Homo sapiens: one gene and its partners. The protein of the gene in region 3 interacts with the protein of the main gene of each other region in a pairwise test. Each region holds a gene or a part of one and is shown on either strand. Other genes may lie near its edges.

Region 1 (4,688 bases), on a different chromosome or scaffold from region 3:
TGGTTTCAATAAGGATCCTTAAAAGTTCATGATACTACCTTTTGCCAATAGAAGAAGGGTGTATCTGTGAGAGAAAATATGTAAAAGTTGAGACTAAACCATGGTGAACACAAAAAAGATGGCTCTTTAAGAAAAACAAAAGAATGGCCAGGTACAGTGGCTCACGCCTGTGATCCCAAAACTTTGGGAGGCCAAGATGGGCAGATTGCTTGAGGTCAGGAGTTCAAGACCAGCCTGGCCAACACGGTGAAACCCTGCCTCTAGCTAAAATACAAAAATTAGCTCAATGTGGTGGTGCACACTTGTAACCCCAGCTACTCGGGAGGCTGAGGTACGAGAGTCACTTGAACCTGGGAGGGGGAGGTTGCAGTGAGCTGAAATCGTGCCACTGCACTCCAGCCTGGGAGACAAGAGTGAGACTCTGTCTCAAAAAATAAAAAAACAGAAAAGAAAATCCAATCGATGTAACATATCAATTTTTATTCTACTCCTAGATTTACCTCTAATGCAGCATTTATCCTCCTCCTTTCCCTCTCAGCAGAAAAATGGTCCCTCCTCTCTAATACTCTATCAATAACCATTCTCTATTCCTTTCTTCTGGCCCTTGTGTCTCTGTCAGCCCCCAGCTGTCTCCCTATTCCTTTTCAGTCCTTTTTTTCTGTAGCTCTCTTTCCTCTGTTCATGTCTTAACTGACACTTCCTAGAGTTCCATTCCTACCTCCTTACTTCCCCAATGACACACCCACTTTCATCATTTCTCCTACAGGTGATTAAGTCTAAACTGACATTTACCTAAGTCCTCATTGTCTAGTTCTATCTTGATGTCCCTTTGGCCTCCTACATATCTCACCACAAACATTTTTTGCTATATCTCCAACCTTGCTCAGTTCAATTGCTTAAGCCAGAAACCAGTCATCCTTGACATCCTTTCCTTCTCCTGTACTCCATTAGTTACAAATCCTGTCGATCCTACTTCAGAAATATCCTGTACTACAAGCATCCTTAAAAACCTTAGCTTAGGCCATATCTCTCTTAAGAACTACTACAACAGCATTTATTTCTCTGGTATCAGTCTCTTCTAACCTCTAATCTATTCTTAAAATTATCTTGGTTACCTTAAAAAAAAAAAAAAAAAAAAAGACAGGTGCCGTGGCTCACGTCTGTAATCCCAGCACTTTGGGAAGCCAAAGTGGGCAGATCACCTTAGGTCAGGAGTTCGAGACCAGCCTGGCCAACATGGTGAAACCCCGTTTCTACTAAAAATACAAAATTAGCTGGGCGTGGTGGCGCATGCCTGTAATCCCAGCTACTCGGGAGGCTGAGACAGGAGAATTGTTTGAACCTGGGAGGCAGAGGTTGTGGTGAGCTGAGATCACGCCATTGCACTCCAGCCTGTGCAACAAGACCAAAACTCCGTCTCATAAAAAACAAAAACAAAAAGAAAACACAAACAAAAAACCCCCACAAATATCCTGGTGATTCTGCCCAATTTAAGGTTCCTATTAGCTCTAGATTGTCTTTAAAATAGAGTCTAAAGGCACGACATATACCTCCCTTTCCTATCTGGTCCCAACCTGCTCCTCAATTCTCAACTCTGCCCACCATTTCCACCTCTGATTTCTAAGCTCCAAAACCAAAATACTTCATATTTCCCAGAACGCTTTTATGACTGGGCCTTTGCACTTGCCACTCCTCTCTCTGAAGTGCTTCCTGCCCATAAAGTAAACCATACTGTTTTCTTCCTCTGCCTTTCATGGTGCCTCTACATCTTTTAGGACATTTATCGGATTATACAAGAACATGTTAATATACCTGCCTATCCCTTTCACCTCACAACAGACTGACTGTCTTGCTCCAACCCTTAGCAGTTCCCAATGTCATCATCAAGGACCATCCTCACCAGCAGTGCCACAATATTCAATGTTCAAGGCATTATGTAGACACAAGGCTGCATGGTTAGGAAGTAGTAACTGCTCAAACAATATTAAATAAAGAAATGTATGAATGACCTGCATGACTTAACCTGAAATCACTGAGAGAAAAGAAGCCAGAAACTATGCTTCTGGATTGCCCTGATCACAACTAGAAGTTCCTGCCAGAGTGCAGTGCTTTGAAATCACGTATGGGGTTACAACCTCAGAAAACAAGACTCAGGCTTGGTGTGGCTCAAGCCTGTAATCCCAGCACTTTGGGAGGCCAAAGAGGGCACGTGGCTTGAGGCTAGGAGTCCATGACCAGCCTAGGCAACATACTGAGACCTTGTCTCTACCAAAAAAAAAAAAAAAAAAAAAAAGGCCAGGCACAGTGGCTCACGCCTGTAATCCCAGCACTTCGGAAGGCCAAGGCGGGTGGATCACCTGAGGTTGGGAGTTCGAGACCAGCCTGACCAACATGGAGAAACCCCATCTCTACTAAAAATACAAAATTAGCCAGGCGTGGTGGCACATGCCTGTAATCCCAGCTACTCAGGAAGCTGAGGCAAGAGAATCACTTGAACCCAGGAGGCGGAAGTTGCGGTGAGCCAAGATTGCACCATTGCACTCCAGCCTGGGCAACAAGAGCAAAATTCCGTCTCTAAAAAAAAAAAAAAAAAAAAAAAAAAAAAATTAGCCAAGGGTTGTGGTATGTGCCTGTAGTCCTAGCTACTTGGGAACCCCAGAGAAGATCGCTTGAGCCCAAGAGTTTGAGGTTGCAGTGAGCTGTGATGGTGCCACTGCACTCCAGCCTGGGCAACAGAGGAAGAACCTGTCTGATAGGGGAAAAAAAAGCAAAAAAGAAAACAAGAAGATTCACTTGCTTGTGTTTGCAGCTGATCCAGTCCAAAACTTTGCTGATAAACAGATGTGTTGTTTTCTGTTAATAACAGGTGTAGCATCCAAATGAAGAAAGTCTGCCAATCCTTAACTTAAAACTCAATTTAAGAGCTTCTGAATGTTCTTTCATTTCCTTTTCCTTTCCTTTAACTTAAAATTCAATTTAAGAGCTTCTGAATGTTCTTTCATTTCCTTTTCCTTTCCTTTCACATTGTTTACTGCCATCCAGATTGAAAGCTGGCTGAAACCCTAGTTATTCACATTCCCTTTAGCGTTAACACTACAGAAAGTATTATGTCTTTGGATATTAGTTCAATACCCTCAATTTTATAGATAACTAAAAGCCCCAAACATTACCTAAGGCCTCACAAGTATTTTAGAGGCTTAATTCCAAAATTTCTGGCTTAAAGTTTGGTGTTTTTTCCACTAACTGGAGTCAAATGACTAAAAAAGTAATATGAAATAAACTTCCACATTAAAAACAATTTCTGCATTTAAAATACTTTTCTGAATTATAAAAGTACTCTACGAAGTCATTCCTTTTTTTCACTACTCAAATACTGAAAGGTTCTCCGATAAGTCACCATCTGTGATACACACTTTTTTCTATACTCCAGCTCTGTGAAATATTAGAAGAGAGAAGAGTAGAAAGATCACTCAATTTATTAAAATTATTAGAAGACCACAGAGCTGGGATCTTTCCTCAAAAATTCTTACCCAGAGTTAATCCTGTAGTTATAGTTGTTGCTATTCCTGGGGACAAAAAGAGAAATAAAATTTAATCATCAATGAAGATGACATTCTTTAGGTTTACCTGTCATAAGGGAAAGACTTAAAATCACCCTCAGGGAGTGACAACACTTCTAATTAGAACAATACATATCATAGTATCTGCCACTAATCACGCATTTTTCCCATAGCACTGGTTTTCATATTACAAGCCATACATAATTTGATTAAGGAATAAAATTTATAAAATGCAAATAACTATTGCTTATAACAAAATTAAGCAAGACCAAAAAAAGCAACTCCAAACAAAATGCTATACTGAGCTGTCTCAAGCAGCTCACTGACTAATCTGCTCATATTTATTCCTGTAGTTCTTCCATTTTCTAGATGTGGCTGTGAAATGTGCTGCACTCAAAGCTGGAAGATCAACGCAAAAAGTAGTAAGAATGACCAAGAGGCTCTAAGGGTAGAAAATAAGGGGTAAATAAAGAAGCAAACTTTTTAAATGGTCAGCTCCAGTGAAACATTATTTTTCCAGCTGTACTAAAAACAAAAACTTTCTATTGTTTTGAAACCTTCAAGTCCTTTACCTATTGCCCTTTTCCCACTTTGTTTTAATAATACAAAAATGTAAAACATCTCTTAGGAACGTAAATTATAGACCAGGCATGGTAACTCAGGCCTATAATCCCAGCACTCTGAGAGGCCAAAGCAGGAGGATCACTTGACCTCAGGAATTTAAGACCAGGAGGAGACCTCTTCTCTACAAAAAGTAAAAAAGTAAAAAAAAAAAAAAAAAAATTAGCCAGGCGTGGTGGTGCACACGTGTGGTCCCATCTACTCAGGAGGCTGAGGTGGGAGGATCACTTGGGCCCGAGAGGCTGCAAGGCTACAGTGAGCCATGATCATGCCACTGCACTCCAGCCTAGACAACAGAGCAAGACTGTGTATCTAAAAAAAGAAAAAAAATAGAAATTATGTTACAGTAAGGGTGCTGATTATCTCACGTATGTTAATGTTCCAAATTGATAAAGCTGGCTTAAACCACAATCTCCACTAAGGAAAAACACTACATTATATAATCCAAAAATTTAAATTAATATTTGTATGTTTTCCTTCGTTATATCAGAGTAGATGACAGTCAAT
Region 2 (4,030 bases), on a different chromosome or scaffold from region 3:
GCCAAAGAGGACATACACCAGCTCCCTCCACTCTTTTCTTCCTTCCTCTCCCTGCTACCTGCAACTCAACCAGCACAATCTTCATAGGCAAGAAAGCAAAGCAGCTCAAACATGATTCAACACTGATCAGTGTTTACCACTGGATAAATCTGAGTTCACACTTTCCTTCTCTGACCTAAATGTGAAGTCAGGAAACACATGTGCCCTACTTCCATCCTGAGCTCAGTCCCCAATCTCCCACCAGCCTCAGGCCCCTCCACTTCTCAGATCAGGTCCCAGACCTGCCCATGAAAATGGGGAGCAGGCTGTAACAGATTTGTCCACATGTTCCTACCACCTGTCCCAACCCAGGGTACCCACCCAGAGACATCTGGTATCATTTAACAAACACATTGAAGGACAACTGGTCTTCAGAGCTGAAGAGAGCTCCTAGGGGGAGAAGCTGGGACAACAGTGAAATAAGTAGCAGCAGCAACGACAGAAGTGAATGGTGACAAAGACTGCTGTGATGAGCAGGTAGCCTATCAGGGTGAGCTCCACAGCCGAGCGAGTCTCAGGATCTGAGAACGAGGCTGGGTAGTGCCCATGAGATGTCACACCCAGCCGGAAGCCAGCAACTAGCACACCCTGCCTCCAGCAATAGTAGATGCCCCGGTCATCCAGCTGGGTGAAGCGGATGTGGAGCTGGTTGCCGTGGTCAATGAACACCCTCATGGACCTGTTGACACCCTTCAGGTACTGTGTGCGGTAGAGGTGCTGGCGGTCTTTGTCCCAGGCCACTGCATGCTCTGGCCGGGCCCCAGGACAGGAGATGATGAGTCCATGGCCCAGTCTCTGCTGGTGGAACTGAATGGGCACCTGGGGCACCCAGGGCCGGCTGCCCACTTTGGACACATAGTTAATGATGGCCAGCACGCCCTCCCGGATGGTCTTTGTCTTCTCACAGGGTACTAAGCAGCTCCGAACCAGCACCTCAGGCGTGTGGTCCCTGGCCTTGGTCCGCAGCTTCCTTGGCACAGCCCTTGAGCCACAAGACACCACATCGGGCACGGCCTTGAGGTAGCGTGGGGAGAGGTCTGGGCTCTGCAGGTAGCAGAGGCCGATGCGCCACTGCTCCCCACGCACTCCGCAGCGGTCACAGGGGGTCCATTCCCAGAAGGTGGTGAAGACATGGAGGTGCCCATAGTATTCATCTGCAAAGGGCTCCTGGCCCTTGTCCTGGAAAGTGGCCACCATTCCCTCACTGTTCTGGATGTCCACATCGTAGGCGTAAAAGTAGTCCCCCTTGCGGGTGCCGCAGAAGTACAGGCCTGAGTCCTCAGACTGAGCCCTGAAAACCAACAAGCTGAACATGCGGATGCTGAAGCGGGTCAGCATGTCGCTGCCCACACGTACCTGGGCTGCCTCCGTCAGCACCCGCCCATCAAAGTCCGTCAGCACTTTGGTGTGGCTGCTACCTAGGTGCTTTTGGTAGAACCAGACTACAGCTGGCACCTCTTCGGGTTTGCAGTGACAGGGAAGCTCAAAGCTCATGTCGGCCAGGTAGGCTGCATTTTCAAACATCAGGAAAGCAGGGCAGGGGGTCCTCTGAAAAATGTTTTCCTTCTCCACAATTTCAAAGGCCTGGAGCCCCCATGCCCACAGGAGCACAGTGGTGAGGGCCAGGTGCATACCTGAAGGAGGCAGGGGTCAGAGGGGCAGGGCAAAACCAGGGCATTAAAGGCTCATAGGGCTCCTAGAAAGCTCTGCTAAGCGGAAGCCTCTAGATGAGGAAAGGATTATGCAGCCAGGAAAAGCAGCAACAATCTGCAGAGGAAGCCGCCAAGTGCAAGGCAATTTATTCCCAGTGGATGTACAAGATGCCCTTCTAACATTCCAGACCTGATCTCAGGGTGGGGGGGGAAAGCCATTCTAGAACCTGGCCTTTACTCCCCTTTCTAGAACACTGGCGCTCACCCAAGAATGGGTCAAAGGAAACCGGAATGAGAAGGGCGGGCCGAGGTGCTCGGGCAGGGAGATCTCTGCCTCAGTGCTCCAGGCCCTGCCCTGCCAGCCTGGTGGAAAAGTCTTTCATCAACCTGGGGGATGAAGGAAACCCACCCTCCTGCATATCTGGCCATCCGGGAGGCTGGCTGGACCTGAGCTGATGGCTTGGGACTTTCCCAGGCCCAACCTGCACAAGAACTGAGTCTCTAGGGGAAAATTCAACACCTCAAATGATGTAGTATTTGATCATTTGTTGATTACATGTCCATTCATTGGTTTGGGGCTATAAACATTCTTGTTAAGAGCTGTGGAGATCAGTGTTTGTTTACCATAAAGATTTTGCTTTTTCCCTTTTATGAGTGGAGGCTGTAACTGGTATAGCCAGCATTTGGTTGGGCACACACTCATCTCTCAAGGCCAGTGGGCTAGAGGCTTGGCAGACTCTAAGGGTGGGAAACAAAACCGCTCTCAACTTCCTGAGCTCTTGACTGTCCATGGATACACACAGTTCAAAACAGCGAGACACTGAGGGACTGGAGAAGTGGGGAAGACTTGATTCCTGTTTTTGCTCTGAAAATTCCAAGTTGAGAAGGGAACCAGGTGTGGGTTTCTTATTATGGTCCTGCAGAACCCCCAAGACAACAACCAAAAAACTGCCTCCAGTGACCACTGGGACCTCTGAGGGTAGCTTGCCGCATCAGTCAACCTGGTACAGCTCCAGCAGCTCCTGCAGGAGCCTCTCCTCCTCCTGGAGCCCACCAGACTGCTCCTCCAGACCCTGCTCCTCCCAGCTGAGCCCCTCCTTCACGGATCTGGGGTTGCCCATGGCTTGCAGCTTCTGAAACAAGCCCTTGCAGCTCTCTCTCTCTGCCCGGCTCAGCAGGCTTAGGTTCAGGGTGAAGCGCCCAGTGCTCGCCAGGCTGCATAGGATCCCCAGCACCGCTGCCCGGTCAGCCGGCCCCACGTGATCAGCCAGTGCCACCAGCAGCTCCCCAAGAAGTCCAAATCCCACATCTGTCTGGAAGAGGCAGCCGAGCCTTGGACCCCCAAGCTGCAGTAGAGCCTGGTAGCGCTCTGGCCCACTTGGCAAGTGTCGTCGCCAATCACGATAGAAGTCAGCAGACGTCTCGGGCTGGAGGGGGGCTTTCTCCTGGACCACAAAGGAAGGAAAGGGAGTCAGGAGCTCTTCCAGCTGTTCTGCAACAGTGACAGGGAGGGGAGCCTGTAGCTCTTCATCTTACTGTCTTCATCTCACTACTGTCTGAGCACTGGGAAAGCTGTGGTCCTTGGCGGCCTCATTTTCAGATGAGGAAACTGGGGATGAAACAGGGAGGGCCCCAAGGAATCCACGCCATGATTTGAGATTCTCATTTATACTGGAATTTTCCTACTCATGAATGGAGACATAGCTCTGGTCTTCAAGAGTAAGTCAGGGTTTACTGTAAGTCGGGTGGATGGGTTGATTGGAAATCTCAGGAAGAGAGAAAGGAACTCAAGGATCTGAATGTTGGGGTCTCTCTCTCAACACTGCCACAGGATCATTACACTAGACACCATACAACCCAGAGGCAGAGCATCCCAATTCTGATCTGAGAATGAAAGTCAAAGGACTAAGGGAAGCCGACCTTCCTAGCCCAACTTTCTGACTCATTCTGCCCACTTCAACTCAGCTTTGCCATCTGCTGTTTGTTTTTCTTTCTGGGATTGGAGGCAGAAACCTATCTCTGTTGGTTTAACATGACAAATAAAGAAGAGGTATGTGTGGTTAAAAAAACAAAACAAAACAAAACAAAATGAAAAAACAGGATTGAAGCTTTAGGGCAGAGAATCCTGCTGGACTAAAGGGGCAGGGCCTCACCTACCGGGGAGATTTCAGTGGCCACATCCTGGAAGGTCCTTCCCTGAATAGTGTGACAGTTCCAGGGCACAGTTCTCTTTCCTCCCATCTTATCCTTCCGCTCCAGTGGCTTCAGATGTGATGCAAGGACAATACCCCTGTAGGCAAAGGACAGAAATTAGGCAATGGACTTAATGCTGTGTCTGT
Region 3 (2,242 bases):
TTTCCAGCTAGAGGGGAGAAAACACCAGGAAAGAGGAACCCTGGGTCATAAAATGACGGACCTGTTAGGAAAATGCTGTTGTGTGACAATGGAGAGCCTGCCCAAGGACTGTGCAACCTATCTGTTCCTCTCCACCAGTGTATCCCAAGTAGTCTGGTATGATCTGTGGTTCCTTAGAATATTGAGGATCTCTTTAAAAAATGAAATTTCTGATCTCACCCCATATTACTAAAGCAAAATTTCCAGGGGTAGGGACTGGGACTCCAGAACCATTAATAAAACAAAACAAAACAAAGCAAAATATTGATGATCAGGCAGATTTGAAAACAGTGACATTGCTTGATCTCTGAATGGATGGATGCCCTTGGGTGGTCACTTTTCTTCCTAGGACTTGCCTTTGTTATCTGTAAATTAGAATGGCTATACTTTCAGACTTCACAATTTTAAGCCACTTTTTTCTATTAACAGTTGAATGAACCAGTGGGACACATTTTAACGTCTTCTTATGTTGACTAAAATTATAGTTAGAGCTGAGAAAAAAAAAATAGCATCTAGTCCAACTCCTTGATTGTAAAACTGAAAAACTAAGGTTATTTGAATGTTCTGTTTTCTCTTTTTAAATATTTTATAACTTTTAAATGGAAAAACCTATTAGGTAAATGGAAATAATCCTTGAAAATAGTTTTTGATGTTTTGTGATTTTTAACTGGTAAATTTCTACTTTAGGTGGGCATTTTCTTCCCTAGAATATGCCCTTTATTATGCTATCATTGCTAGATTTAAAGGGACTTGTAAGCATTTCTGGAAATATTTGATTTAAAAACATATATTAATAGATGTTTTCCCTAGCAGACTTTTGGAGCAAAAATATTATTTTAGTTCAGCAGAGGATTACTGATATTATGGGCTGATCTCAGAAAGGAATAAGGATGAGGCAGAGAGGAGTACTTGAGTTTGTGTGTGTGTGTGTGTGTGTGTGTTTGTGTCAGTGTCACATAAGTTCTCCATATTGCCTTATGTCCCAAAGCCAAATATAAAAATATAAATGATGCTTTGTATAATTCATTTTATCAAAAATTACCCATAACTTTCATTTGTTTTTATATCGACAATGAAGATGATCATATTTCATTTTGCAGATGTGGCCATAAAATATTATTTACTTCTATATAGGTGATTTTACCAGGTTTAGTTATCCTGAGAAAACATCTGGACTTAAGAGTTTCTGCTTCCCTACAAAGATCTTTAAAGTTATTTTTAGGCACATTTGTGACAAACAACTACTTGATATTGAAATCTCCTTCAGCCATTAGAAGCTATCAAATAAAGTAGGTGTAAAAACAACTGTCTGTGGCATTTGTATACATCGAGAACATTTTTCTTTCCCTCATTTTCTGCAGTGAACTCCAGTAAAGCTAAGTGTCTTATGAAATCTAAACTCATATATGTACACAGTTCACTCTAGCTTCTTCCAAAATATCTCTAGGTAGTACAACTGAAGCCAAACCTGCCTGACTTCCTGCTCCTGGCCACCCAAAACTCCATATGGCTTCTCGTACACTGACATCCTCTCTCTACCCATTTAACTGCTAATTGAGTCTGATAAAAGTCTTCTTTGAAAAAAGTTTTTACTTCTAAGATTTGCATTTACATCATAAAATTAAACCATTTTCAGGAAAATCAGATTTTTTTATTACAGTACTATTTGCTTTAAATTCGGCATGTTTTTCTTAAGTAGCAAGTACATGTATCGGAACTTAGAACTGGTGGGCGCGGTGGCTCTTGCCTGTAATCCCAGCACTTTGGGAGGCCAAGGTGGGGGGATCACGAGGTCAGGAGATGGAGACCATCCTGGTTTCATCACGGTGAAACCCCCTCTCTGCTAAAAATACAAAAAATTAGCCAGGCATTGTGGTGGTCACCTGTAGTCCCAGCTGCTCGGGAGGCTGAGGCAGGAGAATGGCATGAACCCGGGAGGCAGAGCTTGCAGTGAGCAGAGATCGCGCCACTGCACTCCAGCCTGGGTGACAGAGTGAGACTCTGTCTCAAAAAAAAAAAAAAAAAAGAACTTATAACTATGACTTGTTCATCTCACCCTGAAAATATGTTCCTACAAGAAAATGTGCTTTGCAAAGCAAAAAAGGCAAAAATTGGGGATGAGTTCTTCAGACAAGTACCAAAAATGATTTCTCGTCATTTTTATTGTATGCATATTCATCATAGAAAATAATTTTTTGTTTTA
Region 4 (4,688 bases), on a different chromosome or scaffold from region 3:
ATTACTTGAGGTCAGGAGTTTGAGACCATCCTGGCCAATATGGCGAAACCCTGTCTCTACTAAAAATACAAAAATTAGCGGGCGTGGTGGTGAGTTCCTGTAATCCCAGCTACTCGGAAGGCTGAGGCAGGAGAATCGCTTGAACCGGGGAGGTGGAGGTTGTAGTGAGCCAAGATGGCGCCACTGCACTCCAGCCTGGGTGACAGGGCAAGACTCCCTCTCAAAAAAAAAAAAAAAAAAAGAAGAAGAAAGAAGTTTCAGTTTAAACTACTCTGCTATCAAAAGTAGACAACCATAAGTTTGCATCCAGAGCAATACAGAGGAATAATAAGGAATGAAAAATTTTAGGTTTGTAGTTAGAGTCAATTCATCCATTATCATCTGCTATAATAAACTGTTAATCTGTTTTTCGCTTCAATATCTTTGATGGTCAGTTCGAACAACTGCCACAGCAGCAAGCAACTTGATTGAAGTATTTGTTGATGGTCAGTCTGTCATGGTGGAACCGGGAACGACCGTCCTCCAAGTAGGCATACATTCTAACTATTTTGTGTGTGTGTTCTGATTTTTTTAAAAATACTAATTTATTTCCTTTATACTGATTATTAGTAAATAATTCTTTAAAATAACTATACACAGCAAAGTTATATTAAAATTATTTCATTTTAAATCTTGGCACTTCAAAGTGAGCTATCATATATTTGTTTGTGGCATTTTTAGTGAATTATGGTAGTTCTTTTGTTTCACTTTTCATTCCAAATGAATACCCATTAAGAAATTTGAAGTCCGAGCGCAGTGGCTCATGCCTGTAATCCCAGCACTTTGGGAGGCCGAGGCGGGCGGATCATTCAGGAGTTCTAGACCAGCCTGGCCAGCACTGTGAAACCCCTTCTCTACTAAAAATACAAAAAATTAGCTGCGCATCGTGGCGCGCACCTGTAATCCCAGCTACTCGAGAGGCTGAGGCAGGAGAATTGCTTGAACCCAGGAGGCGGAGGTTGCAGTGAGCCGAGATTGTGCCACTGCACTCCAGCCTGGGCAACAGAGCAAGACTCTGTCTCAAAAAAAAAGAAAAGAAATTTGAAGTAACTTAAATTAGTTACTATAGGTAAGTTTGTGAAAAAATAACCTCCATTTGTTGTGGGCCTGCTTAATGCTTTTCATTTTCATATAACCTTTCTGTGGTTAGTAATATTCATAGGAATATATCCTACAAAGCAGGTAAATGGAGGGTAGCATGTGCTTACATTCATGCTCTAAATATTTCTTCATATTCCTCCAGAAATAATAAATTGGTCATAGAGAAGTCATGCTTCACTCCATTTGTAAGTTGTCACAGATCTAAATGTTCTTTGTTCATTTTAGCAGTCATTTCTAGACTATCTGCCAGTCACAGACATGAAAGCACAAAATATGATATAAATGTATGTTCAAGGTACAGTGAAAAGTTGTGGCAGGGATAGGAGGTAGTAGAAAGAGGTATTGGGTGCCTCAGGTCATCCCTGAGGAGGTGTTAAAGGATGAACAGGTGTGTTCATATTGTGAACAAGAACGACATGCTTGCATTTCCTATGGAAAAAGTTAAGGCAGATAGCTTGTCATATTTTGAAAGCTTCAAATAGTTTAATATTGATGAAACATAAGGTATAAGTAGAAGATGAGATCACAGGAAATCAAGTTATTGAGGAAGGGAAGGTCCAGTCATGAAATACAGTATCTGCTATGCAGAAGAGCTTATATTTTGATCCATCAGGAGTTTTGTTGCCTATTTAAACAGGGTGACAGCGACTGTAGAGGATGATCATTTGGAGAATAGCAAGACTGGAATAAGAGACAAGGAAAAAGCATTTTGTATTATTGGGACAGGATACTACAAAAGCCCTAAAATAGATAGTGTCAATGGGAATGAAAACAAGAGAGTAGATTCAAGGGAGAATGAAATGTAGACAGGCCTTCAGGAATGATGAAGACCCGAGGGATTTTTTCCCCCGTCGTACAGAACTTCCCAATATTGCTTTAACAGTGAGAAAAAAAAAACACAAAAGAAGTTTCAGTAGAGCCACAGACAAATAGTTCTTTAGAACTCAAAGAGACCGGAGGAATTCTTGTGGTTTTCTGCATTTGTTAGGTTATTTTGGAGTGTATAGAGGGGAGAGAAATCATTTGAATTTAAGCTGTCTGTGGAACATACACATGCAAATACCTGTAAATCTGAAGCTTGGAGAAGTGGAGGTCTAACATGGCTGCAGATTAAGGTTTGGACATAATCAGCATAAGGAATGTCAGCTAGGATGAAGGCTGGGACACTATCTGTCTTTTTCACTACTATACCTGCATCCTGCACAAAGGAAAGACTCAACACATTTTTGCTAACTAAATAGTTTAAACACTGGAAATTGATGAGATTGCTTTAGAATGAAGGCTGAGGATGAGGAACTAACTCTAGAGGAAATTTGAACATGTTTATAGACTAAAAGGAGGAAGAAATTGCAGAGCAGGGTAGGTGATAATTGGCAGAGCAGGGATAATCCCCCTTACTGGGCAAACAGAAACTGGGAAAACCTTCAGCCACAGTGGGAGGTGAGTCCTGGGTAGCATATAGGAGCCAAAGACAGATAGCCAGCTAGATAATGTGTAGTGAAATCTCTAATCCAAAGGAGGGGAGCGAGGCAAAGAAGAAGTCCAGGTATGAAACCACTGGGGACATTGTGGACAATGGTTCAAAATGGATGTGGGAAGTCAAGTCTTCAGCACAGTGGAAGGATACTTTATCCAGTTTCTTCCACATAAGGTGAAGTCACGCCAAGGATCCTGAGATCCTCTGAGGCAGCTTCAGAGGAGACGGGTTAGAATCAAAGGCAAAGAAAGGGACTGAAATAAGAATGAATTAAGATAGATAGATAGATAGATAGATAGATAGAAGTAATAAGATGCTGTATGTGTGTGTTTCAGCAATAACAGCAGTGAAGTCAGGTTATTCTAATGCTTTTTTTTTTTTTTTTTTTTTTTTTACTTCTAGGCTTGTGAGAAGGTTGGCATGCAGATCCCTCGATTCTGTTATCATGAAAGGTTGTCTGTTGCTGGAAACTGCAGGATGTGCCTTGTTGAAATTGAGAAAGCCCCTAAGGTACTTGATACCTAAAATTCTACACCATGCTGTAGAAGGTAGAAAACTTTAAATCTTGCAGCAAACTTTATTTAGAATCAATATCGTAGTGGAGAACCTAGCCCTCTTTACTTCTATCTATAAATTTAATTCTTTTGTACAATTGATTCTCTTCATTTCAAAACTGGAAACACATAGATAGAAGTGCTTTACAAACACATGTCATATAATTGTAACATATCTAGAAATTAAAGGTGATTTATAGTTGTCAGTATTTCCAAATGGCTGTATAATATATAACCAGGATGTAGAGTTGCCAAGTAGCACATTAAAAGTGCTGACGCCCTGCCATTTTTAGTAGAGAAAAGGGTTGCAGGGAAGAAGTTCACTTTCAGTAGTTTAATTTCATTTTGGTGTATGCAATTTTTTTATTCAATAGTGCCTGCTAATCAAAGCAGTTATTTGGTGTTCTGTTTCAGAGCAGAATAAAAAATTGCATTGACTATTAGAATAAACCTAAAAACCAGGATGTTTTATTTCTGAGATAAATGCAAAGTACTAGATCATCGTATTATGAATATGAAAACTTAACAAAATTCAGTTTTAAAAAATACCCTATTCTTTGCCTGTTATCAAATGTATAATTTAATGTTTTTATATAATTTAACATTTTTATATATTGAGTTGCTTGTAATCACAAATAAATACAAATACACATTTTTTTTTTTCATTGAAATCCCAGGTTGTAGCTGCTTGTGCCATGCCAGTAATGAAGGGTTGGAATATCCTAACAAACTCAGAAAAATCCAAAAAAGCCAGGTACTTTATTGTTATTCAATGTAGTACCCTTTCATAAAGCAGAAAATTGCACATTTTGGTATTTAGACCTTCCCATAGATTAAGAATTTAATATCAAACTCGGAAGAAGTTGGTGTGCTCAGCTTCTAGGAGCAATAGAAGTGAGTACTACATAGTAGAGAAGGTGAAGTCAGGAGTTTATGGTATTGAGCTTTAGGATCAGCATTAAAAATCCTTCTTTAGTAACTTGCTCAACTTGTGAAGAAGGGTGAATCTGGACTTACTAAGCTACTACTATACTATACTGGGATTGATTGTGTTTGTTTTTATTTTGAATTAATGTGAATATTTTCTGAGGACCATTCAGCAACTTTTGATCATTCGGTATTGTTAAAAGTTACAATTTTCTTTATTTTTTGAAACGAGGTCTCACTATGTTGTCCAGGCTGGGCTTGAACTCCTGGCCTCAGGTGATCATCCTGCCTCAGCCTCCCTCCCATAGTTCTGGGATTACAGACGTGAGCCACCAAACCTGACCAAAAATCATAATTTTCTATGTTCTCTAATGATACTTTATTCTAGGCTCCTCTAAGCATTTTCCAGATTGTGTGTTTAATACTACCAGAATGATACTCGGGAGGATCACTTGAGCCCAGGAGCTCGAGTCCAGCCTGGGCAACATAGCAAGACCCCGTCTCTTAAAAAAAATATTACCACAATGATAGATAATTGGCATTTCTGATATTAAATGTAAAATTACTATTAATTGTATAACAAATATACA

What was found. Proteins that work in one complex are often made in the same cells at the same time.
Region 1: the proteins of KIAA0408 (region 3) and NUP58 interact in binary tests that used the Homo sapiens proteins (3 or more experiments, as listed by UniProt).
Region 2: the proteins of KIAA0408 (region 3) and GFAP interact in binary tests that used the Homo sapiens proteins (3 or more experiments, as listed by UniProt).
Region 4: the proteins of KIAA0408 (region 3) and NDUFS1 interact in binary tests that used the Homo sapiens proteins (3 or more experiments, as listed by UniProt).

Annotation. Positions count from the first base shown.
Region 1 is NC_000013.11:25,308,125-25,312,812, reverse strand, and holds part of NUP58 (nucleoporin p58/p45), read right to left. Parts: intron 3,567-4,688; coding exon 3,531-3,566; intron 1-3,530. UniProt on the Homo sapiens protein: Component of the nuclear pore complex, a complex required for the trafficking across the nuclear membrane.
Region 2 is NC_000017.11:44,901,471-44,905,500, reverse strand, and holds the end of GFAP (glial fibrillary acidic protein), read left to right. Parts: 3' UTR 1-429; coding exon of another isoform or gene 430-1,671; 3' UTR 1,672-2,342; downstream 2,343-4,030. Other genes in the region: Ig-like V-type domain-containing protein FAM187A precursor, read right to left, coding at 430-1,671; DNAAF19 (dynein axonemal assembly factor 19), read right to left, coding at 2,684-3,136, 3,849-3,981.
Region 3 is NC_000006.12:127,440,148-127,442,389, reverse strand, and holds part of KIAA0408 (uncharacterized protein KIAA0408), read left to right. Parts: 3' UTR 1-2,242.
Region 4 is NC_000002.12:206,148,257-206,152,944, reverse strand, and holds part of NDUFS1 (NADH-ubiquinone oxidoreductase 75 kDa subunit, mitochondrial isoform 1 precursor), read left to right. Parts: intron 1-434; coding exon 435-526; intron 527-3,019; coding exon 3,020-3,127; intron 3,128-3,848; coding exon 3,849-3,925; intron 3,926-4,688.